Linked DNA regions of Homo sapiens. The protein of the gene in region 6 interacts with the protein of the main gene of each other region in a pairwise test. Each region holds a gene or a part of one and is shown on either strand. Other genes may lie near its edges. The genes, in order: GOLM1, RNF11, KCNJ6, WFS1, SPRED1, CNPY3 and KLK6.

Region 1 (4,291 bases), on a different chromosome or scaffold from region 6:
GCACAAAGCTTTCGGGGTACTGTGGGTTGAAGACGTCCTGACAGCCCATCTCATTCCACAGAAGGTTTAAGGCAAACTGCCATCCTTAGTCCACAGTTTGAGGGTGGATTCTTTAAGGATCTAATAGAGGATGAAGGGGAAAAGCAAAAAAACAGAGCTGTGACAAGTTTTATAAGTTGAACAGAACATTTTATTTCTCAGCAATTCTATGCGTACAAATTAAACATGAGATGAATAGAGACTTTATTGAGAAAGCAAGAGAAAATTCCTATCAACCCCAAGGAGGACTCAAAGTGAGGCTGGAAGAGGACTTAGAAGAGTATGAAAGTACTCTAAGATTTTATCTAAGTTGCCTTTTCTGGGTGGGAAAGTTTAACCTTAGTGACTAAGGACATCACATATGAAGAATGTTTAAGTTGGAGGTGGCAACGTGAATTGCAAACAGGGCCTGCTTCAGTGACTGTGTGCCTGTAGTCCCAGCTACTCGGGAGTCTGTGTGAGGCCAGGGGTGCCAGCGCACCAGCTAGATGCTCTGTAACTTCTAGGCCCCATTTTCCCCTCTGAAAATAAGAGGGTTGGATCAAACGATCTCTGGGGCCTTAGCATCTCAAATCCTGTGGATCCTCCTACTTACCCCTTAGAGAGCCTTACTGGGAAGTCAGTCATTAATGATGTGGCCAGTTATTTGCAAGTGGTAAGAGCCTATTTACCATAAATAATACTAAGAACCAACTCAAGTCAAACCTTAATGCCATTGTTATTGTGAATTAGGATTAAGTAGTAATTTTCAAAATTCACATTAACTTGATTTTAAAATCAGTTTTGTGAGTCATTTACCACAAGCTAAATGTGTACACTATGATAAAAACAACCATTGTATTCCTGTTTTTCTAAACAGTCCTAATTTCTAACACTGTATATATCCTTCGACATCAATGAACTTTGTTTTCTTTTACTCCAGTAATAAAGTAGGCACAGATCTGTCCACAACAAACTTGCCCTCTCATGCCTTGCCTCTCACCATGCTCTGCTCCAGGTCAGCCCCCTTTTGGCCTGTTTGTTTTGTCAAAAACCTAATCTGCTTCTTGCTTTTCTTGGTAATATATATTTAGGGAAGATGTTGCTTTGCCCACACACGAAGCAAAGTAAATAAAGACCACAAATGTTCAAATTCTAAGCCACTTAATAGCGTTTTGTACATTAAAAATGACAAGGGTTATTATACAAGTAGCCTTTTAAAAAATTCTCACACAGAACAGCTTTGTATTTAGACTTAAAGCTGTTGCTACTTTGCTAGTGACGTTTGTGTTAACAGTCAGTGCTCTAGGCCATTGATTGATTGATTGTCAGAATCAGAAGTGACTACACAAGAGCATTAGCCAGACTTTTCAGTGAGAACAGGTAACAGGCTGGCACCAGCACTTGGTACAGCACGTGGACAGGACGACGGAACCCAGAGTTCTCTGTCTCTCCTTCACAGCAGATGGACTCTTCTATAGGTGGCTGTTAATTTACACAAAGTTATATTCCAGAATCAGGAAGCCCCGCTGTCGCCAACACTTGAAGGAGAACTATGTTCCAGTTTTGGTGTTGAACTTCTCACGAAATACCTACTACCAAAAATTGTGACACCTTATTAGACACTTCCAAAGTACCCCCCAAAAGCTGTTTAAAAGACCATTCCATTTTTTCCTACACAAAGTGCATACTAAAATTTCACAATAATCATCTTCAGATGTACATTTTATTTAGTACATTTCACAGTTTTCAGTATTCAGTCCCTCATGAACATTTTATAGTCATCTCTTCGGCCCTGTTGTGAAATATGTGATTCCAGTTCAATTCAGAGTGTATGATTCCGCTTTTCACGCTGATCAAGTAAATTTATGGTGTCTCTTTTCTGATCTTCAACATTAAAAACTAAAAAGGAAAAACACATAATATTCTATAGAGTATTAAATGAGATACTAGCCCTAGGCAGGTCCCATTTTCTTATCAACTTCTAGAAACTGTCATAAAGAGGACTGCATCTCCCACAGCAACACTGTAATTGGGAGTTGTATTCCTCATCAAGGACAAGATGGCAACGGTGATATGGGAGGGGGACAGGGAAGTGCTGGGTAGAGAAGGGCAGGGTCACTGGCAAGGGCTCCACCCTCAGGCTTGTGCCCATGGACCTAATGAGAACAAGGACTCCTGTCTTCTTGCCCAAATGTTGCATTTTCCAAGACCACTCTGGCCTGCCATGCCACCCATTCTGTGCCTATAAAAACCCTGAGACCCCAGCGGGCACACACACAAGCGGCTGGACGTCAAGAGGAACACACTGGCAGAAGAACACATCGAAAGACGCTGGCAGGCCATTGATGGTGGAACGATTCGGACGCCAAGGGAAATTCGGCCAAGGACAGTAGGAGATCCCGGCTGCTGAGCAGCCAGACTCCAGAGGAAGACTACCTTCCCATGCTATCCCCCTTCTGGCTCCCCAGCCATCTGCTGAGAGCTACTTCCACCACTCAATAAATCTTGCATTCATTCTCCAAGCCCACATGATCTGATTTTTTCAGTACACTAGGGCAAGAACCTGGGATACAGAAAGCCCTCTGTCCTTGCGATAAGGCAGAGGGTCTAATTGAACTGATTAACACAAGCTGCCTGTGGACAGCTAAGCTGAAAGAACGCACTGCAACACACACCCAGTGGGGCTCCAGGAGCTGTAACCACTCAACCCTAGATGCTGCCGCGGGGTTGAAACCCATCCTCCCCACAACCTGTCCGTCCGCATGCTTCCCCTAGGGGTTTGAGCTGTGGGGCACTGAAGAAGAAAGCCATACCCCCATTGCATGCCCTGTGAAGGGGATAAGGGAACTTTTTTTTTTTTTTTTTTTTTTTTGAGACGGAGTCTGGCTCTATCACCCAGGCTGGAGTGCAGTCGTGCGATCTCAGCTCACTGCAAGCTCCACCTCCGGGGTTCACGCCATTCTCCCGCCTAAGCTTCCCGAGTAGCTGGGACTACAGGCGCCCGCCACCACGCCCGGCTGATTTCTTTTTGTTGTTGTAGTTTTAGTAGAGGCGGGTTTTCACCCTGTTAGCCAGGATGATCTCGATCTCCTGACCTCGTGATCCGCCCGCCTTGGCCTCCCAAAGTGCTGGGATTACAAGCGTGAGCAACCACGCCCAGCTGGAACTCCTCCCCTTTCAAAGTGTCCAAATGGATGACCAACAATGTGCCATGAAACAAAGCTGAAGCACCTAAAGATTCCATACTTGTTTGTAACAGTGACATAATGCCCCATATGCCATAGAAAATGGACAGTATCAAGTGCACTCATGACATTTTAAATATAATCACCACGCTCCTGTGCGGCGTGACTCCCTTGCTACTGCACTTCTAATGGCACACGCTGCCTCCTGAGAGCTGTCTGCAGCTTCAGACAGCTCTTGTGACTCCAAAGCTCTCCCTTTACAGAGCTGATGTCTGTATGTAGCTTCTACCATCTGATCTTACTCTATCCTTTTAACACACAGAAAACATAAAAAGGCACATCACAAATAAAACCTAAAACCACGGTCTTGATTTATAACTATGGCACATTAAATGGTAGTTTAATGACCATTAAATACCTGCCATATTAAATTAACGGTATCTGTTAAAGGCTCTTAATAAAGTTGGAGCTAATGCTTTTTTCTTCTAATTTCCCTGGAGCAAGTAAGGTCTCACTGTTTCAATGACACAATCTTAAAATAATGTTGAAGCTGATGTTGACATTTCTTCAGCTTCTTCAAAGAGCTGACAAGGCACTCATTTTCTTTACCTTACCTACTTACTTTGTTTAAAACCTTGCACAAGGTCAAGTCCTTAGGACACCTGAGTGTAGGGAATGAGAGATCCAAAAAGGCTTCACCGCAAAGCCCATCATTTAGTAGGAAACTAGGCCCAATTTAAAAGGTGGTTAGAGCCGGGGTGGTGGCTCACACCTGTAATCCCAACACTTTGGGAGGCTGAGGCAGGCAGATCACCTGAGGTCAGGATTTCGAGACCAGCCTAGTGGACATGGTGAAACTCTGTCTGTACTGAAAATACAAAATTAGCTGGGCATGGTGGCATGAGCCTGTAATCCCAGCTCCCAGCTACTCAGGAGGCTGAGGCAGGAGAATCACTTAAACCCAGGAGGCGGAGACTGCTGTGAGCCAGGATTGTGCCATTGCACTCCAGCCTGGGCAAGAAGAGTGAGACTCTGTCTCAAAAAAAAAAAAAAAAAAAAAAAAGAATAGAAGTAAGACAGTGACC
Region 2 (4,291 bases), on a different chromosome or scaffold from region 6:
ATAAGAAGGCTGAACTTCTTGAGCATAAAGAAGGGGAGGGATAAAACTTCAAAAAGGTAAATTGTTAAAAGCTGAATAATTGTATAATAAGGCCTAGATACGTGAAATAAATTTGGAGATATTTTCCACCCAAATGTTAAACAAAATGCTAATAAAAAAACACAACCCTTTAATTATCTAAATTTAACTTCGTAAGTTATCAGGAAAATGAGGCATTAATATACCATTACAGGCAGGGCACAGTGACTCACATCCGTAATCCCAACACTGGGAGACATGGTGGGAGGATCACTTGAGCCCAGGAGTTCGAAACTAGCCTGGGCAAAGTGAGACTCCATCTCTAAAAAAAACAAGCCCATCCCCCACAAAACATTATAGCATTGCATGCTTAAAAATAAGCAGTACATTCTAGATTTTTTATAAGGAAGGGGGTTATTTTTAGTGCATTCTACAGGATAAACCAATCCTTTTAACAACAAAAGAGGGTTTTTGGTTTTGTTTGTTTTTTGTTTTTGTTTGGTATTTTAATAGAGATGGGGGTCTCACTTTGTTGCCCAGGCTGGTCTCGAATTCCTGGGGTCAAGTGATCCTCCTGCCTCTGCCACCTAAGTGCTGGGATGACAGGTGTGAGCCACTGTGCCCAGCCAAAAAAAAAAAAAAAAAAAGGTATCTTGAAGAAAGCTTTATGCAGACACAATTTGAAATATCCAAAATGTTACATTTTCTTATTTGTCAAAAAAGCTCCCCAAAACAATCTGATAAATTCTTTCCTTTTTCATATTTTACATGTAAGCGGCAGAGCCAGAATTTGAACACAGGACAATCTGACTCTAAAAGCAGAGCTATACTTGCATTCAATGCTATACAAACTTATTTTCTCAGGATTTTAAAATTTCAAATGTATCAATCAAAAAGTATAGGTCGGGGAAGAAGACTGGCGAATCTCAAACTATATAACTACTGCAAAATTGAGAGACACCTATCCTTATTTTTATATATTCAGATTAGAAAATGTAACATGGTTTGTTGTTCAATGAATATTACACTCTTTTAACAAAGTGCCTCCCTCAATTTAGCACATAACAAAGCTCTTGACAGTGACACAGGGGTACCTCAAGCTGTTTTACATATGCCTTTCAGGGCTGGGCTGCCTACCTGGCCTCCCCCTCTCATGGACCTCCCTTCTTCAGCCTTTCCTGGCTTATCCTCCCACTCACTGTCCTTCCAAGATTGCCTTCGCTGGGCAGATTTCCTCTGTATTATTTTTAAACATTTAGGAATAAGGGAGTTGGGTAGAGGGTGCGACAAATTTGTTTCTACTTTCTAATTTGACAAACACCCTAAATCTCTTTGCATCCAATACTTCAAGAATAGGGATTCAAGTACTTTCTTTTTCTCCCCCAAGTACTTTCCCATTACATAAATATCTTGCGGTGATATATATACACGGTAAAAACCCCTAAATCACTTAACACTTAGTGTAAACCAATTGCTGTATTTAATATTACTGGAATTTGACTTTTTAGGATTCCTTAAAACTGATCTACAACAGCTAGACACGGTGGTGTAACCCTGTAGTCCCAGCTACTCAGGAGGCTGAAGCCACAAGATCCTTTGAGACCAGGAAGTGGAGGCTGCAATGCACTATAATTGCACCTGTGAATAGCTACTGCCCTCCAGCCTGGGCAACACAGCAAGACCTCATCTCTAAAGGAAATAAATTTTTTTTAAAACCTGAGCCAGGCAGAGTAGAAGTGCACCTGTAACCCTAGCTACTCAAGAGGCTGAGGCAGGAGTATCCCTTGAGCCCAGGAGTTTGAGACTAGCAACATAATGAGACCCTGTCTCTATTTTTTAAATTTAAAAAATATAAAGGGCAGGCTCAGGGGCTTACGCCTGTAATCCCAGCACTCTGGAAGGCCAAGGTGGGCAGATCACCTGAAGTCAGGAGTTTGAGACCAGCCTGGTCAACATGGCAAAACTCCATCTCTACCAAAAGTACAAAAATCAGTTGGCCTTGGTGGCGCATGCCTGTAGTACCAACTACTCCAGAGGCTGAGGCAGGAGAATCGCTTGAACCCAAGAGGCAGAGCCAAGATGACACCACTGCACTCTAGCTGGGCAACAAGGTGAGACTTGGTCTCAAAAAAGAGAAAACAAAAAAACCCAAACATATATATACAGAGAGAGACCAGCCTGGGTAACACAGGGAGGCCCAGTCACAAAACAAAAAAACAAACAAAAAAAAACCTGATCTACAATATAGAAGCAAAAATGGCACTAGGAATATGCAGAGTTCTTGTAAGCAGTGCAACTATACCTGCCTCAAATACATTAGTTCATTTAAAAGAAATCTATTCATTCGTTCAACCAAATTACTGAATGCCTAACATGTGCCAGGCACTGTTATAAGTACTTAGGAAACACCAATTAAAAAAAAAAATCCCCTTTCCTCCTTTCTACCTAGTGGGAGAAGACAGGTAATAGACAACGCAACTTTCTAACACATGTTGGAATGTAATAAATGGTATTGGGGGGGAAAACAACAGGGTGAGAGGGACTTCCAGGTTATTAGGGCAGGTTGCACTTTCAAACAGGGTGGTCAGAGAAGGTTTAAGGGGGCAGTGAGAAAAGACTTGAAGGAGGTAAGGGAGTCAGTCAGCCATGAAATCTGGGGAAGAGTATTCCAGAATAAGGAGGACAAAGGTCCTAGAATAGCAATGAGGACAGGGAAGCTGGAGGGAAGCCAACAAAGGGGTTAGCTGTAGGTGTCAAGGGACATGCGTGGAAACAAGGGGTACAGATTATGTAGGGTTTATGCGACACTATAAGGAATCTGATTTTTACTTTGAATGAAACAAGGATCCACACAGAGGGTTGGGGAGACTGTCATGCTCAGTTTTACCAAAATAACTGTGGCTGTTGTATTGAGGACAGGCCTTAGCGAGGACAAGGGTGAAAGCAGGGATAACTGTTAGGAGGCTACAAAAGAAACCATGGAAAGAAATATACACTTCCTACAAACTTGGATCATAATGGTGCAGGGATTTACTTTAAGGCAAAAATAAATAAAAACAAATTTGTCAGATGTTAATAGGAAATAACTGTAACTGGCTCTTGTCATTATATGTACATTGTACATATAAAGCAGCAAACAATGACATCTTTTAACTACTCACCTCAAGAGAACATGTTCCTTTACAATCAGCTATTCACTGTTAATTACATATAATTTGTTGAAAAAGTTACTTTTATCAACTGAGAATACTATAAATCTGCTGTGTGAGGTAGCTAACGCCTGTAATCCCAGTCTTTGGGAGGCTGAGGGAGGAGGATCACCTGAAGCCAGGAGTTTGAGGCTGCCAAGTGAGCAATCCAGTCTAACCTGGATGACAGAGGGAGATTCTCAACTCAAATAAATGAATAAATAACCTTGGATTGCTGTTTCTCAGATCATCTAAAATAACCATTCCTAAGACAGATCTTATTTCTTTGGGGGTGGGGGACAATACTTTTTCTCCAAAAGTTTCTTTTTATGCTCCCATGTTTTAAAGTAATTTTCTTCTGATTGATACTGAATTTGTATATTAGTCTGCGTCATTCACTTCAGGAAACTGCAACCATAAAAAACTCCCACTGTCAAAAATATAACATTTCCAAAAAAAGTTCCTTCATGACACCAAAAACCCCTCATCCCTCATCATCACCTAGTTCTTCTGGAAAAGGCAAACACAGTTTCCATAAATTCTAGTACCTTTAATAGTACAATTATCATAAGGATAGGAGAAAGAGAACAAGTCAAAGATATTCAATTAAGAAAGGGGATAGGAGGCAGGAGAATTTGCTTGAGGCCAGGAGTTCAAGACCAGCCTAGGCAACATAGGAGTCCCTGTCTCTATTTTTTTAAAAATAGAAGGGGGTGAGGGTAGGGAGCATAAGAGATTTTAAAATAAAAACTTCATGCCAGATGCGGTGGCTCATGCCTGTAATCCTAGCACTTTGGGAGACTGAGGTGGGTGGACTGCTTGAGGTCAGGAGTTCAAGACCAGCCTGACCAACATGGTGAAACCCCGTCTTTACTAAAAATACAAAAATTAGCTAGGTGTGGTGGCACGCGCCTGTAATCCCAGCTACTCAGGAGGCTGAGGCAGGAGAATCGCTAGAACCCGGGAGGTGGAGGTTGCAGTAAGCAGTGAGATTGTGCCACTGCACTCCAGCCGGGGTGACAGAGCGAGACTCCATCTCATTAAAAAAAAAAAGTTAAATAAGCACTTTTGTTGTATAGTAAACA
Region 3 (3,584 bases), on a different chromosome or scaffold from region 6:
CCTTGGGGGTAATGCAGAGGGTTGCCTCAGTGGCCAGAGAAAAGCAGAGATGGGGCTCTTCCCTGGATGCATCTCCACAGGGTTGCGTGGGGCTTGATGGGTGCCAAGTGCGACAGACACACAGGGGCTGGGGGACACAGAGGACAGGGTAATAATTCCACCAGGCACAACAGTAATATTGGCAGGGGCACATTAGGAAAATCAGGACGAAATACACACGATGTCCCAGGGTTTGTTTCACCAAACACTAGCTTCTGGGAAAGAATTTATCTTAGGCACATTTTTACATGACTTTTGTTCATGTTACAGTATGAGGCAACTCACGTGTCATTTTAAACCTTGGCTTCCTGCACGCCTCGGTAGAGAGGGACAGCTGGCTAAGCCACCAGCCCGAGATTCCCTGGTGGGGAGGAGTTAGAGCCGAGCCGAGGCACTGGAGTTTGGCAAAGCCAACCCATGCAAAATGGACCACTGAGAACACGAAAAACTCTCACGGAATGTTTCTTTAGTCCAACATGGAACTTTATCATGAATGATCAAACTCCTTTTATTAAGACTCTTAGAGCTGTGACAAGGGGCAGGATCAACTGCTCTGCAAGTCCCTAATTCCCTTTCGTTTTTTTCAAGTTCCATGAAGTGCAAGGTACAAACAGGTATCAAAGGAGTCCCACTTGGGTCAGTAGGTGTGGAAAGGAGCGGAGCTGACCCATTGCTGGGATCTGGCCATAGGCAGAACATTGTGGGAGAGATGGGGAAAGAGACAGGAGGGGGAGAGCGAGAAGGAGGAAAGGGAGCAAGAGAGTTAGGGAGAGAAAGAAAGAGATGGAGAGAGAGGAAGAGTGGGAGGGAAGAAGAGAGAAGATCACTCCAAACCCATGGTACTATCCTTGGGTTATGCCTGATATGCCTGACATCTTGAGTGGCCCTGGGGCAGGGTGTTGCGCTTTGAAACAATTCATGCTCTCACTTGTAGAAAAGGCCGACTTCTTTGGACACAGACACACATAAAAAAGAAACCAAGGCCATATCAAATTTTTCTTTTATTGTTCCAGTCAAAAAAAGAGGAACACCTCAATATGTAAACAGTTTCCCTAACACAGCGAGTTCTTAAAGATATATATATATATATATATTTTTTTTTTATTTTAAAAAAATTTGGCATTGTAGTGATTTCTCAATACATAATTTGTGCTTTCGCATTGAGCATGCTTTCGTCTCATTGTCCGTGCACAGACATACTTGGAGTTGAGTAAAGGGAGTTACAAAAGGACCAAAAAATGGGACAGGAGCCAAACCAGTACTTGAGCCCTACCTGGTGTTCCTTCCTAAAAAGCATGGTGGAAAAGTTGGCAAGATTGACCTCAGAAGCAAATCTTAGTGACTTTATTCCAAAGAAATCTTAGAAGCCTTGGTAGCAACTTTTGAAAGAAGCATTTCTTGTTTTCTTTCTGTTCATCCCTAAAGGATCATTGGTTTTGCTTGGAGAAAACTTTAGTTATTTTGTATGTTATATTTCTTAATATCCCTAAGTCCCTTCTAAAATAAACTCTTGTTTTGTGATTTTGCTGGACACATGATGGTTTACAACTACATGCTATTGAAATTCCACTAGTGATTTATTCTGCTTTTTGCTGAATCATTTCAAAGTGCTTGACAGTTGTGTAAAGACCTTTTGGTTTTGTCCAGTGAAAATTATTTTTTAATTCAATACTAAAGACTTCAGAGCCTTTAAGATGCAATGATGGGTTTATCAATAATACTGTTCATGCTATTCGTTTCTTAGTCCTTGTCCTTAGCCTGAAATTCTAAGTCTCTATAAATTAGCACCAGTTTTCCAAATGCATATTTTATCAAATCCTATGATCCTAGGCTGGTCTAGGTACCATCCCCCAATCTTACCTTGTGTGTTTCTGTTTTAAGACCCTCTCCCATGCTGGCCTTGCAAACTGAAATGCCTTTGCTTTTGGATCTCTCTCTCTCTTTTTAAAATAGAGATGGGGTCTTGCTGTGTTGCACAGGCTAATCTTGAATTCCTGGGCTCAAGCAATCCTCCCACCTTGGCCTCTCAAAGTGCTGGAATTACAGGCATGAACCATTGTGCTTGCCTGCCCTTGGATCTCTGTCTCCAAAACCTAAGCAGTCTTTGAGAAATGTCAGGGCAAATGTCCCTTTCTTCCTCATGAGGCCATTTCTTACTGCTTACGCAGAAACTGATCTACTTTCTTTACATTCCAGCAAATTTGTTGTGCCTGTCCCTCTTCGTTTAGGTATTTCTAAAACTAGACTCAGTTACTTCACGTGTGAAGTGGGAAGCAGTATTTTCTCACAGGGTTTTGTGTGGTTCGATGCACTTAGCGCAGTGTTGTTGCATGGTAAGGGCTGGCAGCCATGGGATTACAGGCTTGTTGAGGACAGTGGGGGATGTTACTTTTTCTCAGAGTCTTCATAGTAACTTGTCAAGGACATCACTCACTGTACTGCAAGTGTTCACTGAGTGCTCATGGCCAGCACTCAGGCAAGTGAATACACATTTGGAGTAATAAAATATGGGGCATCAGCTAACTTTCAGAATATTTTGAGTGGAGTTTTGTCCTTGTCTAGTTTTAGTTGCCTGTTGGGATCCCTGAGTATAAAAATACAAGTGTGTGCCTGCTCCCAGCATTGACGAGCTTCATGAACCTTGAAAATGGAACACTTTATTTCTCTGTAGGATGTGAGCATTTGATAAAGAACTCAAGTTCCTGAAAAAATTTCTGGAGACAAAGTTGAGGATCAAGTATCATCTGTGCTTCATTTCTTTTGGGAAGATGTGCGTTCTCTAGGTGTGGATATTGGAGTTGGCACACTGACATGCACCCTAATGACCCTCAGCTTGGGGACCCAATTCTGACACCTGCTGGGCTTTGCTTTCTTTGCTTAACTAGTTCTTGAAAATTCTGTGTGATGGTGAGAATAAGAAGTTCCAGGTACATAGAAACATGAATGTCCACAAACATGCAACCCCCAAACTAGATGCAGTCTTATCTTCAATCGCATAGATTCAAAATTAAAGAGACTATTGAAACCTTGGCACTGCTAGAGACTTTTGAACTAATAGCTTTCTGGAATAATTTTCTATCCTAAGAAATAGCTCACAGAACAACCCTATATTTTACTGGGCCATAGTAAACATTTTGGGCCTTAATATAATGCCATTTTATTAGGAAAGACAAATACAATGAATTATCTTATGATTAATAATGAAAAGTGGCCACTATTTTCCATTACTGGTATATAACTAAAATAAAGCAGTAGTGCTACGGTTAAAATAAATCAGCTTAATTAAAATATTATGGTTTAAGCTTTTTGCCTCCTTAATTATCCTGTCTGGTTTAGTTTTTGTTTTGTTTTTCTGACTGGGGCCCTAGGTGCATGCTTTAGGGAGGGTAGAGCTGGATTTGGGTTAAAAGCAAATTGTCAGTAGCCTGCTGGAGCTGAAGGAATTGCTCATGGATGAGCTGGCGAGATGCAGCCTCACATTTATTTTCTATCAATGATGCTGACCTTCCTTGGACATTTTTCTACTGCAGAGAAGACCACAGTGC
Region 4 (4,291 bases), on a different chromosome or scaffold from region 6:
AAGCCCAGCTTTATTCTCTTGTTGAGCAGAACAACAGATCCCCCCAGGGCTGGAGACAACACTGAGGTGATCACAGGACTCACCACAGCTGCCTGTGAAGAAACGGCCCCTGCCCATCAGCCCTGGGGCAGCCACCGACAGGCAGGTGCCGGCCCTGGCCCACTGGCACATCACTTGGGCTGCTGTCAAAAATCAGGACAGACAACACCTCTCAGCACGTGGGCATCCACGCTCCACACAGGACACAGTTTCCCCTCTCAGGGCTGCCATGAGGAGTCCCGCCCTGGCACAGGGACGCCCAAGAGCCTCACAACTCCCTGCAGTCTCCTTTCTAGCCGGAGTCACTGTTTCCTTTACCTGTCTGGGCCCAGGAGCCCCTGAGCTTCCAAGCCCCGACCCGTTGGCAGTGGTTCCCCAGGTGGCAGGTGACTTGCCAAGGCCACAGAGCCAGGATGGGAAGGAAGTGTGGGGCTCCAGCCCAGTGACGTTTCTGAAGCAGCCCCTCCCCAGCCTTGCTGAATGAAGGGCTGAAAAGGGGGTCAGTTCCTCAGGGAGGCAACCAGAGAAGGGCAACCCCAAGGCTGCTCTTCTCCTGTTTCCCAAGTGTACAGGCCAAGGAGCAGCTCAGATGGGGCTCCGACGATGCCTCCTCCAGGCAGTCTTCCTGATGCCCTGAAGAGTGACCAGGCCCTCCTGGGGTGCCCCTAGGGGACTGCAATGTGGGTTGTCCCCCGCGCTACATGAGCCCCAGAATGTAGTTCCTTGTTCACTCCTGTCTCCCATATTGCTCAGGGCTCCCGGAGGGCAGGACTGAGCCTTCACTCCTGTCACCAGGGCCTGGCCAGGCACTGATCTAGGGACAGGCCAACCTGCTCTGTGCACTTCTCTGAGCCTGGGACATGGGGATCCCTGGGCGCAGATGACCTGAGGCCCATAGTGAGCACAGGCTCCACGGTATGTTTAAATCTCCCCTCCACCCTTCACCAACCACGGGACGCTGGGTCATCTACTTAAGCCCTCTATCCCTCGGTTTCCCATCTGAAAAACAGGGCAGCAGCAGAGCCTGCCTCCCAGGGCTGTTAAAGAGGCAAGTGGGCTAATGCCCTAAAAAGATGCCTAGCTCGGGGAAGTGTCAGTTAAATAGCTACCCTTGTTGTTACCTATTGGTATTTCAACTGATGCTCACCCACCTATGTTGGCTGGATGGGGGAGCTAAATAACAGATTCTCGCAGCAGCTGCTACTGGCAGGGACCCTGGGCCCTGCCCTCCCTGCGGCCACTGGGCATGCAGGGCCAGGCCTGCTTTGGCCACATCAGTGACCAGTGACTGGGAGACGGGATGCCCACTGCCCCCAGCTGCAGGCCCAGTGGTGGGGACTGGGCTGTCAGGCGGCGCCCAGGGCTTGCTCTTCACCACCCCCACATTGGAGACCGAAGCCAAACAAACCACAGCTGCTTCCTGACTCTTCTTATCTGAAACACACAGTCTTGGACTCTGTCCTTTGCGGGCTGTTCTCATTACCCAGATTGAAACCAAGCTTCCGAGCCCTGGTATCTGTTCCCCTGAAGCCGTGAGGCTGGGCCCAAATCCCGGGGTCAGGCCCTCATCCGCCCAGAGGCCTCCAAAACAAAGCAGAGGAGCACAGTGATCTTTTAAGGAGATGCAAAGACAAACAGGGCCCAGGGCTGCAGTGAGTTTCCAAGGGCACGCCCAGCATAAGTGGTACATGGGAGCCTCAGCGCGCTGCGACCACAGCAGGGAGGCCCCACGGCCCTGCCAGTGGGGTGACTGGGACAAGAAGGAAACCTGGACCACTCGAGCACCTCGTCTCTCACCCGCTGGGTCTCTTGGGCAAGTCACCTAGACTCGGTGTCTCAGTTTCCCCTCTCAGGACTGCCATGAGGAGTCCTGCAGGCACATGGAAAAGGCTGGTGTACACAGCAGGCACTCACCATGGGTCTGGGGCTTCTGCATGGGCAGGAGGGGCAGTGATGAGCTGGGACTGAGCCTCCCTGGCAGCGGCCTCTCTAGCAAAAGTGAAGGCTGACCGAGGCCTGAGTCAGCTGGAGAAGGTGCCCAGGGGCCGGACTCCCCTGGCTCACACCCACCACCCTCACATCACCACCCAGGAACCAACAAGCCTGTCAGCTCTGCCTGTGAACACCAAGGGCCTCAGCTCTGCTTTGAACACCCAGGGCCTCAGTCAGCTCGGCCTGTGAAGACCAAGGGCCTCAGTCAGCTCTGCCTGTGAACACCCAGGGCCCCAGCATCCCGCCTCAGGATGGAGGTGAAGGACGCCCGTCCCTCACAAGTCTCCCTCAGGGAGAGGGGAAACTCAGCACCAAGGGCTTCGCCCGCATGTGGCCTCACTCCCGAGAGTGTGGCTGTCACCTCTGGCCTGCCACCCTAGTTGGTTACAGAGGGCCCGTGAATTTACTCCACATGTTTGGACGCTGTTGCAAATGGAAGCTGTGAAGTGCTGCAGAGGCCCTGGGAAGAGAAGGACTGCAGAGGAGTGGGGGCACCAGCACCACCTCGAGTGGGTGCCACAAAGGTGACAGGTGCAAGGCTCTGAGGAGGTGGGTAGCCCCACTGGATGGACGCCTGTGCACAGCATGGGAGCTGCACAATGCTGAACTGCAGAGGACCTGGCGGGGGGACCCTCCAGGGGTGGCTGAACCCCGTTCCCACCCAGCTATCCCTGAACATCCCCAGCCTGGGCTTCCCAGCCTGCTCCCTTACCGGTGCCGTCTGCTCTTTCCCGGCTCCTGGTATGCTGGGCCTGGGGTTCAGCGGGGGCCGCTGCGTCTCTAACACCAGGGCCAGGGCCAGCCTGGGGTCCGGGTGCTCGGGGCCTTTCGCTCCTCTCCTGCTCCAACGAGGCTGTGGCATTGAGTCGGGAACGCGCCTGGGGCTGCGGTGCTGGCGGGGGCTGTGGGCAGGAGGGGCCCAGCGGAGCAGTGTTGGAGTCCATCCTGCCTGGAAGAAAAGTCAAGGTCAGGCACATCCAGCACCGGCAGAGCCCGCTCTGGCACTTAGTGTCTGCTGGAGACAGAAAAGCAGAGGGAGGCAGGTGGGAGCTGCCAGACACTCCATACAGGATCTCGCTGACACTCAGTACAGTCCCCATGGGCCAGCACCGCTTCCAGGGAGGAAACCATGGGAGGACACTCACCCACGTGACTCTACAGATGGCATGGCACTTACAATCTCAGACCTGCACATGCCGAGGCCTGGAGTCCCTGCCTCACTGGGCATGAGCCACACAACCCTGGCCTTCCCTCATCCAAGAAACGGGGATGATGATAGCAACACCCAGAGCCCACCCATGTGGAGCCTGGCTGCAGGGGGCTGAATTGGGCCCCACATCATGTGCCCACCAATGTCTGTGAATGTGCCCTTATTTGGAAAAACAGGTCTTTGAAGATGTATTTAAGGATCTTGAAATGAGATCAGCCTGGAGTAGGGAAGCCCTGGCTCCAAGAGCTGATGGCCTATAGGAAGAGAAGTGTAACAGAGCCATGCGGAGACGGGTGACAGTGGCCAAGGAGCAGGAGGACCACTGGCCACTGCCAGAAGCTGGACAGAGGCGAGGAACTGAGCCTCCCTCAGAGCCTCCAGGAGGGACCCACCCTGCCCACACCTTGACTTCAGACTTCTGCCTCCAGAACCATCAGAGAACAAACCTCTGTTGTTTTAAGCCACCAAGTTTCCAGTAGTTTCTTACGGAAGCCCTAGAAAACTAATACGCTGGTACTGAGTAAAGTTAAGTAAATATGAGAGGGGAAGGGAGCTGGGGAGGGGAGAAGAGGGCAGGGGAGAGAAGAGAGGGAGCCAAATGGGTGGAGCTGGGATTCATACCCAGATCTGCCGCTCCACAGCCCCCACCCCAGGCCCAAGCCACAGCACCGAAGTCAGAGGACTGATGCCCCAGAAACCAACACAGAGAGTAAAAAGCAAACTAAGGCAAACAGTGCGGTGGGGGCATCAGAAGAGACTAGAGTGAGCAGAGATCCCGTGACCCGTGTCACGCCGGAGCAAGGGCTTTATTTTATTCAACAGAGGCCCTCACATGCTGCTTAGCAACATGGAAAAACACCACCATCCCTGTAATGAAGGACAACCACCGGCCACAGACACAGAGCTGAAAGCGCTGCAGGATCCCGAGCCCCGGACCCGGATGGGCCCTGGATGAGCGGCGTTAGGGGTGGGATGCAAACCCCTGGCACTGCTGGACCTTGAACCTGCTGCTGTGTGAGGCTGTGGAAACTTTTCCTCAGATTCCCAAAT
Region 5 (4,291 bases), on a different chromosome or scaffold from region 6:
GATTTGTATAAGTGACCTAGTAAAAAACTTACTTCTGTAAGTAAAGCATAAAGACTGGTATCTTGTTAGCATATTCCTTGTAGAACTAATCAAGTTGGTGTTTAAGCCCAATAGCCTTTGTTTACTTATTCATCCACAGATGGAGGCCATACTTTTTTTCTCTTTTTTAAAATGAGGGCTGTGCATGGTGGCTCATGCCAGTAATCCCAGCCCTTTGGGAGGCCAAGGCAAGAGGATCACTTGAGCCAAGGAATTTGAGACCAGCCTGGGCAGGACCCGATCACCACAAAAAATTTTAAAATTAGCCAGGTGTGGTGGCACACCTGTCGTCCTAGCTACTTAAGAGGCACAGGTGGGAGATCACTTGAACCCAGGAGTTCAAGGCTGCAGTGAGCTATGATCATACCACTGTACTGCCCTCCAGCCTGGACAACACTGCAAGACCCTGCCTCTTTAAAATAAATAAATACATAAAAAACAAAATTGAGTAGTACAAAATTTTGTGTCATCAAAGATACATGGCTATTAAGCCCAAAGTAAGTCTTAAAAGACTATTAATATACCAATTGTTTCCAAATTTTGTATCTTAATTGTTCAAAATGCATGCTTTTACCTAATCTTCCTACCACTTCTACTCTTAAGTCTTTTGTTTAAGTATGTCAAAAATAACAATATAATAAAATTAACAAAGTCTAAATCATACACCATCAACAAAGGAAGGGCACATATGATGCTTAGTCCAAATTCTTTAATTTATAAATCAGCAAACTGAGGCCTACAGAGCCCAGGATTAGAGAATAAATTAAAAATAGCTACAAAAGAAATCCATCTCCCAATTTCAAGTCCAGTGTTCTTTAGACTATACCATACTGCACAGAAGATGGTAAGAGTTAAATAAATGATGTACAAATGGCTTTTACATGAGCACTTAAATTCTATTTATAATATAGCATTTAAAAACATTCTAGTTACCGCAAAACAACCTAATAAGTTTTTAAATCAATTTTATTTTACCATAAAGCATTTAAAAAATAAGACTTCATTTTCTACCTTCAAAATTGGCAAAGAAAAATTCAGACAACTGTACAGACATTTCAAAGTTTAAGCACTCTCATATACTAAATACTTCTTTTCTAGAGGGCAATTTAACAGAAAGAATAAAATTAAATATTTTCCTCTCTTTTAACTCCATTCTTAGACTATCTCAAGGGAAAAGTAAGAGATCTGGATGGAGACAGAACTCAGGATGGTATGCAACATTGTTTAAAAATAACTAAAATATCCAACAATAGGAGACTGATTACAACTAATGTATATCATACACTGAACATAATGTAGCCACTAAAAATTATATTCTAGAATATTTAACGACTTAAGAAAATATTCACATTAAGCTACAATTGTACCCACTGTGCAATTCCATTCCACTGAGAAGAAACACATGTATATATATAAACTACATAATGCTTTCATAAAGCATTTATAACAGTGCTTGGCATACAGTAAAAATCTAATAAATGAATATGTTTCATCACCAACATCATAAGAAAGGTTTCCATGTAGACCAAAATTTTAGCAGCTGTTATTTAATGGCAGAATTGCAAATAAATTATTACTCACTTTAGAGATCATTTTGTACATTATCTGAAATAAACTACTACTCTTACATGGGGTGAAGCATTTTTTAAATTGGCATTTTTAATGTCGTTCCTGTTCCTACTGAAAGATGGAGAAGAAAAGCAGGCTTGTCTTTACCAATCATTTCCCCAAACTGGGTAAGACTAGTCAAGTTCAAGTTATACAACACCAGAGAAAAGGCTAAATTGTTACACTTTCCCCTTAGGCAGTTCTCAGTCACCAACAGCTGCAGTATAAAATCACGGAATCTGCTGCTGTTTACCCTTTCCTGATCAATTTCACTTCTTTATCCCTAGTCAGTTCCTCACCCTTGGCACTAATGTGGAACCATGGGGGAAAGGGAGAGCAATTTAAAGACTTAAAACTGATAAACAGCTGGAGATACATATTCCTAAATTTTGAGCTTCCTATGCCAAAAAAGACAGACACACAAATGTCTACCTTCTTGTGGATATAACACGGGTCTTCAGATACACCACATAACTCAGAGGCCAAGCACATCCAAACATCCCAACAGCACTTTAGGACAGTTTTTAAGCCTGATCTAAGTTATTTCTCAAACTTGCAGAAACAAAACATGTCAAAAATGAGGCCAATTTTTGTCTTTTCTTAAAAAAAAAGGTAAGCCTTCTTAAACGGGTAATAATTTACTTTTCCCATACTCTTTTTCGGCCTTTTTTTCTAATACAGCTAATGATCTCAAATGCATAAATTCAGAGAAAACAAAAAAATGAGGTAATGAGGCTCCATTAATTCAACCACATTTGTAGAGCATTTGCCATCAAGCACTGTGCTAGGCATACAAACAAAAGTAGGGAATTACAGAATAGCGGTCATAGAAATAAGTAAATAATCACAATATTATATGATTTTAAAACTAATATACATATGTACGAAGTACAGAGGCAACATAGAGGGACAGAGTGTTGAAAGAGGGGAAGAGAGAAGGTCTTTTGGGGAAAAATGACAAATTTACAAAAGTTTGTAAGGAGAGGAATTCTAGGTATGGTATCATAATGTGTTTAAAATATATAATTCAGGATCATAAAGTTTTAAGTGAGAAAGCAGAGGGAAATTAAGTTGAAGCAAGTATGCAGTCATTTAGCTGATTTTTACACAGGCCAACTGAATAATAAGCAAATTTTTATATTATGTATACACCACATCTATATAAACAAACATTAGATGGCTTAATATTACACAGCTTTCCAGTGCTTCCATTTATTTCTAGAATGTTTTCCAATTTTATATATATATATATGTGTGTGTGTGTACATACATATACATACGTAAAATGTATGGGGTGAACATATGTTTATTTACACTTATCAAAAATAACTCACCACTGGGTATATTTTTTATGAGGCACTAAATGATATAACCATAAAAATTTGCTTTCTATTTACGGAAAAACAGTTCAAACTCAGATTACAACATAGTACGTTTATCATACATGGTCTAATTCTAGTTAACCTAATTCCAAAATCTAATATAATCCCAACTTGCTATTAGAAAGCCTAATACTGACACAGGAAGTGTTTCTGGCTAACGTGAACCTAATAAGCCAAATGCTTATTATTTCAGCTACTTCACTTCTCCAAATGTTTTGGCCAAATTGACAAAAGGACATGCAGTGCTATATACACTCAATACCAAAGGACAAAGACTCTTAAGTATTATATAATATGCCTTTAAATGTTTAAAACTCTATTTAGAAGGCTAATTCAATAATGTAAAATATGGTACAGTTATATCTATCGGAAACATTTGACTGGAGTATTAAACAGTCTCTGTGCAAATTACCTACAAAACAAACATGTATGTGGCTATTTCCTCTACTATTTATAACACAAATTCTTTTGCTCTAGAGTATGTTTACTATTTTTGAAAAGTAAGATTTTTAAACATAAATGTGAAACAATCTAAGAAATGCTTTATTCTAATTTATTTCTTCCTTACTTGGTTTGGCATTAAAGCAAAGCCCTACACATAACAGATCCCCCACTAATTCTTGATTAAATATATTCTCACAGTCAGCCTAGGAGTTATCCATTTCTCTACATAAAACTTTAATTTCAAATAATAAGCATGTACTCGAGGATTTCAGAATGAGGCCCTACTGGATTTTACCACAATGGCTATCTAGAAAGGGTTAATGGTTTCCCAGGAAACTGGTGATTTTCACTTTTCTTGAAGGTTGAAATCAGGTGAAAAAGAAACTAAAGAATGTTAAAAATAGTCCCTACTGTAATTAAATCCCTATGAGCAATGGCTTTAAAAAAGAGAAAAGGGAAAAAAATGTAAGGCCCAAATAAAATCCATGTTACAGGGCAGTTTTAAACTGTGCTAAGGCCTTAATGGCTTCTGCCATGATACGTATCTTTCTTCATAATGACTATAAATAATAAATTTCCATTTCAAAACGGTTCACCTATTAAAGATGAGACATAAATTACTATATTAAAAGCTACATTCCAAATAAGTTCACTCTGTGGTTTATCTAATGCACAAGCAAACAATGCTGGCTCTAGTAAAACTGATTATCAGATGAACACATTATTTTCTAATATAATAGAGTTTTTTAAAGTAAAACCCCCAAGATTTTGTTCCCATGAAGAGTTTACCAAAATATTATGCTAAATATTATTATCGC
Region 6 (4,291 bases):
TTATTACTGAGTGCAAAATTCATACAAATTTCTGCTGCTTGAGACTATTCCCTTAGGTATCCCAGGAGTTTATGAATGGTATCCTTTGCTAGAAGGAAACTTAGGTAGAAAAATGTGGGTGGCAACTATCTTACCCTGTGCCAGGCACTGAAGATGTAGAGAGTAAGAACTATGGGCCTTGTTGTAAGCAGCTCATTCTCCAGAGAGAAAAGCACTCGTACACATACTGAGTACATGGGCCATCACAAGGGCATCCCAGCGGGGTTGTGGGAGGTGCTGTGTGGACCCAGAGATGGGACTGGGCAGTCACTCCCACCGAGGTGTCCTCTGACACCTCGCCTAAACCCCCACCTTTCTGCACATCGTGGATCTTGCTGAGTTCTCCCCGTTCTAGTGTCTTTAGGTTCCCACGGGGGCAGCAACTGTGGAGCATTTCTGCCTGTGTCTGAGATTGAAGCAGGACCCTCATGAACAGGCCCAGACCCTCATGCATGTGCCTGAAAAATGAGGCCACTCAAGAGGGGAGGAGCACAAACGGCAATCAAAGAATGGGAAGAGGCAATGAAGGAAGATCCCAGGTGGTCATCTTCAAATCACACTCACACCAGCAGACACACTAAGATACATGCAGGCCTGACCCCAGAGCGGATGAAGGACAATCCCGAATCCAACCTTGGCAAATCGATTGCTGCCGGTCCTCTCCTTGTGCAGGCTATAATCCAGGAGCCTCTTGCAAATGGTCTCAGTGACTTCGATTAACCGCAAGTCCCTGCCAAGACAGGAGGATGAGGAACTGAGTTCCCCTCCTAGCCGCAGTGGGTTAGTGGTCTGTCCCTCCAGCCCTGTGCCCCAACACCTGCACATCTCACCAATGGGAAGTGACTCAGAGCTGGAAGGAAGATAGGTCATCTGGTCTGGGGGATCTGAAATGCTGGAACACAGACCAGAGAGACAAAATTTTAACAGCTCTAAGGGAAGGAATTTTTTATAAAGCTAAATGATTCAGTATTTAGATTTTTTGATAAAGCAAAATTATTAAATTTTGATAGTAAAATATCATTCTCTTTGAAAGGATGATCACAGCTGACAGAATTGGGTTTTTAAAAACTATATTTGTACCTAGCAAAATAAAAAGCTGGTAATCCTGTTACTAATGTTTTAAAAAATTGCACTGTGGCCGGGTGTGGTGGCTCACACCTGTAATCCCAGCACTTTGGGAGGCCGAGGCAGGCGGATCATCTCAGGTCAGGAGTTCGAGACCAGCCTAACCAACATGGTGAAACTCCATCTCTACTAAAAAAATACAGAAAATTAGCTGGGCGTGATGGCACATGCCTGTAATCCCAGCTACTTGGGAGGCTGAGGCAGGAAAATCTCTTGAACCCGGGAGGCAGAGGTTGCAGTGAGCAAAGATCATGCCATTGCACTCCAGCCTGGGCAACAAGAGTGAAACTCCGTCGCAAAAAAAAACTTGCATTGCTCTGTGAAATCCAAGCGTCTGAGAATCAATGATATAGTCCAACAGTCTTGCTTTTAGAGATGAGAAATCTGCTGAAGCATAAAGAAGTTAAGAGATTTATGCACGTCACCCAATTAGCTGGGGACAGAATCAGTGGGCAAACTCAGGTCTTGGTTACAAATGATGCCCTTGTAGGGGGTTTGCCTAGCTAGGAGAAGGGAACTCCAAACCCCTGAAGCCTCCAGCAGCAACGCAGGCCAGGCCAGTGAGTCCCCATTCACTTACGACTTGGTGTATTTGACTCCAGAGGCCTTCTGGTCCAGGATGCCATAGCCCGTGCCAATCACCTCCTTGGTCTTGCCGGTTTCCTCAAAGGCTGACTTCAGCTCCACAGCAACATATTTACACACTGGGGGAGGGAGGTAGCACAGCCCACTGAGTGCACATGAGTCTAATGGGAGGCCAGCTCCCAGCAAAACAGATCCAGGTGGGCATCCTTTCCTAGACTGGAGGACCAAAATCAGCACTCAAGGCAGGGAAGGAGTTAGAACCTGTGGAGGCTAAAGCAACTCCATCTTGGATGCTAATGTGCCATGTTGACTTCTGATTAACCCCAGTTTCAGGAATGCCTCTAGGATTTCTATTTTATCTACTGTTTCTTGTGTAAGAGCATGTACTTACTGTAAATCCTGCCCTTAAGCAATTGTTCTTCGTATTCCTTTTTTTTTTTTGAGATGGAGTTTCGCTCTTGTTGCCCAGGCTAGAGTACAATGATGAGATCTCAGCTCCTGGGTTCAAGCGATTCTCCTGCCTCAGCCTCCCAAGTAGCTGGGATTACAGGCATGCACCACCATGCACGGCTAATTCTGTATTTTTAGTAGAGACAGGTTTCATCTTGTTGGGTAGGCTGGTCTTGAACTCCTGACCTCAAGCGATCCGCCCACCTCGGCCTCACAAAGTGCTGGGATTACAGGCGTGAGCCACCACGCCAGGGTCTATCATTTTACTTTCTAAAATTGCATACATACAGAAAAGCTGAAAGAACACAATGAATACCTTCCACTTGTATTCAACAGTTGTTAATAGTTTGCCACATTCTCTCTTCAATATATAATTATAATATCTCAACAATATATACATTTCTTTTGCTACACCATCTTGAAAGTAAGTGGCAAACATGACCTTTTGAGATAAATATATCATCATGTATCTCCTGAGAAAAAAGACCTCCTCCTACATAACCATAGAACAATTATGATACTTGGAAAATTAACAATTCCAACATCACCCAGTAGTCCATATTCAAATTTCCTTAATTGTCCCCAAAACATCTTTTATGGTTGTTAGATTACTTGATTTCATATGTGTTCCAACATCAGCTCTATTTCTACCAAGTTAATTTGCTCCATGCCCTCCAGAGAGCTCTTGTTCCTACTGTCTCCGCACATTTATTTCCTCATTTCCTCTTACCCTTCCTCAAATAGGTATTAGGCAACTCCTACGTGTCAGCCTGGGGATACAGAGATGAAAACAAGGTCCCCTCCCTTCCAGATACTCAGTCTAATGCAGCAGATAAAGGTGTAGACAAATAACTACCACTGTATAGAGTGCTACAGTGCTACCACCGAGGGTGTGAAGTGCCTGAGGCCCTAGGAAAATACTTAATGCCTTCTAAGGGCTTCTCTGCCCATCCTGCCCACCTCGCATTATAAGCCTCTCCCCCAGGAAGCCATTCTGCACTAATGCCAATTGCTCTAGATTTCACTCTGGGCCTCTGCAGGATCCATGCTCTCCCTAAGGACCCTCAGTCATTTGATGTGTCTCTCCACATAGACCACAAGGGTCCCCAAAATGTGCATTATGTATTAGATTTTTTCGTATTTCCTTAGCCTGGGACTTGATATATGCTGGACGCTCGATAAATCTTGTTGATAGAGACCGTCTTCTGATGCCTCTGAATGGAATACCAGTCTGAAGGCTAAATGCCATCAGCAGTTTTAACACTGACAGCACAGTCTGCTAGAATACCAATTTACCACAAAAATAAATACATCCCCTGGAGGCCTGCTTGGTGAAATTAATCAATGGCTTGGAGAATTTGAAACACATACAAATTCCAAGTAATAAGCTGGTGATCTTCAAGTCTGCAATGAACTGGGGATGTCTCACCTCCCCAGCTCTCCATCCAGGACCATCTGGGCTCCCTCCCCTCTTCTGTCCTGTACTCTGTGCAGGCACATCATTTTTCTAGCACCACTTGCCCCTCCTCCCACGCCCTCCCCAGGAGTGGGGAAAGGGGAGGTTTGGAACATCCTTTCTCTCTCATACCCATCAACCACAGCCTTGCTTTCCAGCTCTTCCAAACATTACCTCTTCAAGACCTCCTCTGCGGATCCCACCCAGAACCAGACTCACAGGAGATTCACGGCACAGACACCAGACCCTCACTGACATCCACCCACTCTTTTTTTCCGGGCAGGTTCTCCTTCCTCTGTGCCGAGGCCTGTTCCACTCAGGCTACTGAGCCAGGAGGCAGGCTTGGTGGGCTAGACACAGTCAGCATTTAATAACAAAGGTGTAATAATAATACAAACAAATATACTATTAAGATGAACCTAACGGTTGGAGTTTGCCAAGCCATCCTGTGACTGCAAATCCCTTTTCAATTAATCTTCATCAGTTACCAAATGAGGGTAGACTAGAATGATCTCTAGATATAGAGATATAGAGATCCTGGGCATCTCTATGCTTCCGTGAGTCTGTGAATGTTGCCTAAGGAGAATAAATGTGAGCTCCTTAGGCTATGAGAATAATAAGAGGGAGAGTATGGGC
Region 7 (4,875 bases), on a different chromosome or scaffold from region 6:
AGCCTGGCCAACATGGTGAAACCCCGTCTCTACCAAACATACAAAAATTAGCCAGGCAAGGTGGTGCACACCTGTAATCTCAGCTACTTGGGGTGCTGAGGCAGGAGAATCGCTGGAACCTGGGAGGCAGAGGTTGCAGTGAGCTGAGATCATGCCACTACACTCCAGCCTGGGTGACAGAGCGAGACTGTGTCTCAAAAAACAAACAAACAACAAAAACAAAACTGCCCAGTGGCTTCCTACTGTGCTCAGAATTAAATCCAAATGCCCATCACGCCCTGCAGGTCCCCAAATGATCCAATTCCCCCATTAGAAAGTAAGTTCAGGAAAACAGCAATTTTGCTTGTTTTTTTTTGTTTTCTTTTTTTTATTTTCTTTTCCACTGCTATGCCCGCAGGGCCTGGCACACATTAAGTACTCAATTAAGCAACAGCCGAATGCACCTGGCTATCAGATGGCCTCGTGCTGGGATGGGGGGGATGCCTATGTCACCTCCTGCCTGACATCTATAAGACACCCTCAGGGTTCAGTCGCATCTGCTGTTCATTTACAGTGTAGACTCACGGTTTTTTGCAGTGGGCAGCTGTGAGGACCCACAGTGGATGGATAAGGACCCCACCACAGAGCAAGTGGCCCGAGGTGTAGAGGGCAGCTTGGTAGGGGTGAGATGTCTTGTCGCAGGGTCCGCCATGCACCAACTTATTCTGCTCCTCTGCCCAGGCTGAGGGAGAGAAGATCTGAGTCAGAGAGGAGTTCTGGAGAAACCAAGCGCATCCCCCTCAACATGAACTCCAGTCAAGATTGGTCAGGTGCAGTGGCTTATGCCTGTAATCCCAGCTGAGGCAGGAGGATCGCTTGAGCCCAGGAGTTTGAGACCAGCCTCGGTAACACAGTGAGACCTCATCTCCACACACACACACACACACACACACACACACACACACACAAATTAGCAGGGTATGGTGGCATACGCCTGTAGTCCCAGCTACTTGGGAGGCTGAGGTGGGAGGGTCACTTGAGACCCAAGAGTTCAAGTCTGCAGTGAACTATGGATCATGCCACTACACTCCAGCCTGGGTGACAGAGTGAGACCCTGTCTCAAAAAAAAAAAGCTTCTCTGTATTTCCACTCCCAAACTTACCCCATTCCCATTACAAACCCAACTGTATCCCCTATTCCCGGGCTCTCTCCAACTTTCCAACCTACCTCCTACCTCTTCTATGTTTAGATCCCCATCCCTAAAGCCAACCCCACCCCAAACCCTCATATCTTCAAACCCACCTCCCACCACCCTCCCTATCTGTATTCCCCACCCTTAGCCTAATCCCCAACGTCTTCCTCATTTCAAAGCTCCCCCACCCCAACCCTGTGCATATCCCCATCCCCAATACCAGCCTCTTCTCCATCAACAAGCCCAACCCTGTCTGCAAGCCTCCCCCATCCAAATGCCCTTTCCCCACCTGCAGCAATCAGACTCAGCACCACCATCAGCTTCTTCATGGCCGCTCCTGAGAGGGGAAGCCACATGGTCCATTAGTCACTGCCTCGACCCTCCCCCCATCCCTCTGTCTGCTCCCTCTGCATCCTCTCCTTCCTTCCTGGCCTGCTATGGTCTCCTGCCTTGACCTCTGTCCTTCCCATCTAGCCTCCTGATTTATTCTTCCTCAGCCCACATCTTCCATCAGAGGATCCCACGAAAACAGTGCCAAAGAGAATTCAGAACTACGTCCACTGGTCCAGTAACCCATGGTGAGATTCTGATTAGATCTTTCTACTTTCTTGGGCACTGATTTGCCTTCCTGTCGACAGGAGAGGGTTACCCTAGGGGGCCCTAGCGTTCTTCCTCTGTATGGGAGTTTTCCTCGGAGCCTGGCTCTGTGCGCAATGGCCACCCACCCCGCCCACCCGGCAGGTTCTGTGATGTCTGTGATCTCACCTGCTGCAGGCCTCCGGGCTCCGGGGATTCTTGAGTCGGGGGAAGGAACAGCTTTGAGACGAGGAGGCAGAAAGAGTTAGAAATGCGGGGAGCCGTGAGGAGAGAAGACACTCAGATGCAGTGGCAGAGCCAAGCGGAGGACGCAGGGGCCGCAGAGCCCAGGGCTGCAGGGACTGCCAGACACACACCCCCAGCTCCCAGGCCTCCCTGGAAGAGGCTGGTTCTGTCCCCAGATGCTTCTGGAACGTCCTTTTAACCCCTGTCTCTCAGGTCCCTGAGCCAGGAGACTGGCTACACCCTTTTCCTCCTTACCCAGGCCTCCCACACACATTCCTCCCGCCCCCACGCTCTGCTCTTGGTGACCCCTGACCAGGCCTCCAGGGAAGGGAGCACTGGTCCCTGAGTGCAGTGAGGGCCTGGACTCCTGGGTCTGAGGGAGGAGGGGCTTGGGGGCCTGGACTCCTGAGTCTGAGGGAGGAGGGGCTGGGGGCCTGGACCCTTGCGTCTGAGGGAGGAGGGGCTTGGGGCCTGGACTCCTGGGTCTGAGGGAGGAGGTGAGAACTTGGACTCCTGGGTCTGAGGGAGGAGGGGCTGGGGGCCTGGACTCCTGAGTCTGAGGGAGGAGGTGGGAACTTGGACTCCTGGGTCTGAGGGAGGAGGGGCTAGGACCTAAACTCCTGGGTCTGAGGGAGGAGGGGCTGGGGCCTGAATCTGAGGCAGAGGAAGTTCTAGTCGGCTCAGTCCTTAGACCTCCGGGTTTTGGAGAAAGAAAGTGTCTGAAGACAAATTCCGGCCTCTGGGGCAAGCAGATGGTGCCCCAGGCCTCCCTGCACCCCCAGCACTCTCTGTGCCACCCAGGGACCTGCAGGCCCTCACTCCGGGCTCTAGAGCCCTCCGGCACTGGGAAGCAGCCTGCCCAGGTTCAGTGCGGTTGGGGTGACTCACACACCTGCCCGTAGGTCCCTCTGTGTGCTGCCTGCCGACCTCTGTGTCCCCAGGAGAGAGCGAGCCAGCCAGCCGGGGAGACAGCTACAGCGTGTGTCACCACACTGGCCCCCGCCCCTGCCCCGGGCTGGGGAGCAGGCCCAGGCGCGATGGGGAAAGGGCCCAGGAACAATCGGGCTTTGTCCGCCCCCAGCACCCCAGTGCCATGCTCCCAGCAGCTCCGGCCTCAACCTCTCTTCCGGCGGGCAGGCGGGAGGGCGGTTACATCAATGGCTTCCTTTTGTCCCTGTCTGACAGTCCTCCTTTGCAGTCTCTGACTGCCCACCTGGCCCTGACTGGAGATTTCGGCACTCCACATCCTCCTGGTCCTTCTCCTCCAAGTCTGCCCACCCCTGAGGTCTCTTGCTCCATCTGTCTCCCTGGCCATGGAGGGGAGGGAGCTTCCATCTCTCTCTCTCTCCCATCTCAGTCTCTGTATTTGTGTCTCTCTCCCTCTTTTTTTCTCTCTCTCCCTTCCTCTCTCCCTTCCTCTCTCCCTTCCTCCCTTCCTTCCTTCCTTCTTTCTTTCCTTCCTTCTTTTCTTTCTTTCTTTCTTTTTTTTTGACGGAGTCTTGCTCTGTCACTCAGGCTGGAGTGCAGTGGTGTGATCTCAGTTCACTGCAACCTCCGCCTCCTGAGTTCAAGCAGTTCTCCTGCCTCAGCTTCCCAAGTAGCTGGGATTACAGGCACCCACCACCACGCCCGGCTAAATGTTTTTTGTATTTTTAGTAGGGAAGAGGTTTCACCATGTTGGCCAGGCTGGTCTCAAACTCCTGACCTCAGGTGATCCACCCACCTTGGCCTCCCAAAGTGCTGGATTACAGGTGTGAGCCACTGTGCCCGGCCTCTCTCCCTTTCTTTCCCCTTGATTCTCTGACTCTCCGTGCTTATCTTCTCCTGGGTCTCTTCTTAGATTTCCCCGGGGGTAGCACTGTGTGTGCCCAGAAGGGAGTCAGTTTCCCCAGGAAGTAGCGGGGATGATTCCCGAGCGATGAGGAAGCTAGCAGGATGGAAGAGGACTTGAGGACTTATTGATGAGATGCGGACACACAGCGAGAGGCATGGAGTTAAGCAGAAATCGGAGAGCACTTGGGAACGACGTGGGGCTGTGATAAGATGGTGGTGCTGGGCAGTAGCAGAGGGATCTGGGAAGATTTAGGGAGGTGTCTTTGAACTTGGGCCTAGAAAGCTGAGCCAGGCGTAGGTCAGGAGGAAAGGCCGTGAAAATGCCTGGCCTGGGTGCACATGGGAAACCACAGGCAGTGGTTGGGGTGGTTGGTATGGGCTGGAGGGTGAGGGTGTGTGCGTGGCAGAGTGGAGAGAAATGAGGAGGGGGAAGTCACTGCGTAATAAGGACAATGATAGGAATGAAGTCTGGCTCAGCACCTGCTTGGGCTGGGCACTACAGGTAACTTAAAAAAAAAAGTTCTTTTTTCTTTTGAGACAAGGTCTTGTTCTGTCGCCTAGGCTGGAGTGCAGTGGCACGATCCTTGCTCGTGGCAGCCTCAACCCTCCTGGGCTCAAGCGACCCTCCCGCCTCAGTCTTCCCAGGAGCTGGGACCATAGGCATGAGCCACTGTTCCCAGCCAACCCTTTTCTTTGTCTTGCATTGAATCTAATTGTCATCTTGCATTGTGCACCCCCCATCACTCCAGGGATGAAGACTACTTCGGTATTCAGTATACTCTCCGGGTGCTCCCTCTCACATTTGGTCCCCACTGACCTCAGCACCTTCTTCTCAGGACGTGCTATCTTCACAGACAGCAAGTCTGATGTTGCACAACCCAGTGACCAGGCCCTATCCCTCTGCCTCCTCTCTCTGGGGGGTCCCTTCCTCTCTGTACCCACACCCTCAACCCCAACTCAGAGCTGCACCTCTCCCACCTGGACCAGGATCCCTCTGTTCTCTGTATCCCTTGCCCCAGAGAGACCTTCCTGTGCCTTGTGCTGACCTT

The links.
Region 1: the proteins of CNPY3 (region 6) and GOLM1 interact in binary tests that used the Homo sapiens proteins (3 or more experiments, as listed by UniProt).
Region 2: the proteins of CNPY3 (region 6) and RNF11 interact in binary tests that used the Homo sapiens proteins (3 or more experiments, as listed by UniProt).
Region 3: the proteins of CNPY3 (region 6) and KCNJ6 interact in binary tests that used the Homo sapiens proteins (3 or more experiments, as listed by UniProt).
Region 4: the proteins of CNPY3 (region 6) and WFS1 interact in binary tests that used the Homo sapiens proteins (3 or more experiments, as listed by UniProt).
Region 5: the proteins of CNPY3 (region 6) and SPRED1 interact in binary tests that used the Homo sapiens proteins (3 or more experiments, as listed by UniProt).
Region 7: the proteins of CNPY3 (region 6) and KLK6 interact in binary tests that used the Homo sapiens proteins (3 or more experiments, as listed by UniProt).

What each region holds. Positions count from the first base shown.
Region 1 is NC_000009.12:86,025,974-86,030,264, forward strand, and holds the end of GOLM1 (Golgi membrane protein 1), read right to left. Parts: intron 1,921-4,291; coding exon 1,844-1,920; 3' UTR 173-1,843; downstream 1-172.
Region 2 is NC_000001.11:51,238,700-51,242,990, reverse strand, and holds part of RNF11 (RING finger protein 11), read right to left. Parts: intron 1-4,291. UniProt on the Homo sapiens protein: Essential component of a ubiquitin-editing protein complex, comprising also TNFAIP3, ITCH and TAX1BP1, that ensures the transient nature of inflammatory signaling pathways. Promotes the association of TNFAIP3 to RIPK1 after TNF stimulation.
Region 3 is NC_000021.9:37,606,351-37,609,934, forward strand, and holds the end of KCNJ6 (G protein-activated inward rectifier potassium channel 2), read right to left. Parts: 3' UTR 1,023-3,584; downstream 1-1,022. UniProt on the Homo sapiens protein: Inward rectifier potassium channels are characterized by a greater tendency to allow potassium to flow into the cell rather than out of it.
Region 4 is NC_000004.12:6,276,140-6,280,430, reverse strand, and holds part of WFS1 (wolframin), read right to left. Parts: intron 2,981-4,291; 5' UTR 2,976-2,980; coding exon 2,744-2,975; intron 1-2,743. UniProt on the Homo sapiens protein: Participates in the regulation of cellular Ca(2+) homeostasis, at least partly, by modulating the filling state of the endoplasmic reticulum Ca(2+) store.
Region 5 is NC_000015.10:38,255,431-38,259,721, reverse strand, and holds part of SPRED1 (sprouty-related, EVH1 domain-containing protein 1), read right to left. Parts: intron 1-4,291. UniProt on the Homo sapiens protein: Tyrosine kinase substrate that inhibits growth-factor-mediated activation of MAP kinase. Negatively regulates hematopoiesis of bone marrow.
Region 6 is NC_000006.12:42,932,052-42,936,342, reverse strand, and holds part of CNPY3 (protein canopy homolog 3 isoform 1 precursor), read right to left. Parts: intron 1,966-4,291; exon of another isoform or gene 1,869-1,965; coding exon 1,745-1,868; intron 932-1,744; coding exon of another isoform or gene 870-931; intron 807-869; coding exon of another isoform or gene 770-806; coding exon 673-769; coding exon of another isoform or gene 589-672; exon of another isoform or gene 1-588. UniProt on the Homo sapiens protein: Toll-like receptor (TLR)-specific co-chaperone for HSP90B1. Required for proper TLR folding, except that of TLR3, and hence controls TLR exit from the endoplasmic reticulum. Consequently, required for both innate and adaptive immune responses.
Region 7 is NC_000019.10:50,966,605-50,971,479, forward strand, and holds the start of KLK6 (kallikrein-6 isoform A preproprotein), read right to left. Parts: upstream 2,988-4,875; 5' UTR 2,886-2,987; intron 2,164-2,885; exon of another isoform or gene 1,988-2,163; 5' UTR 1,937-1,987; exon of another isoform or gene 1,913-1,936; intron 1,750-1,912; exon of another isoform or gene 1,669-1,749; intron 1,509-1,668; 5' UTR 1,501-1,508; coding exon 1,461-1,500; intron 893-1,460; exon of another isoform or gene 722-892; coding exon 565-721; intron 1-564. UniProt on the Homo sapiens protein: Serine protease which exhibits a preference for Arg over Lys in the substrate P1 position and for Ser or Pro in the P2 position.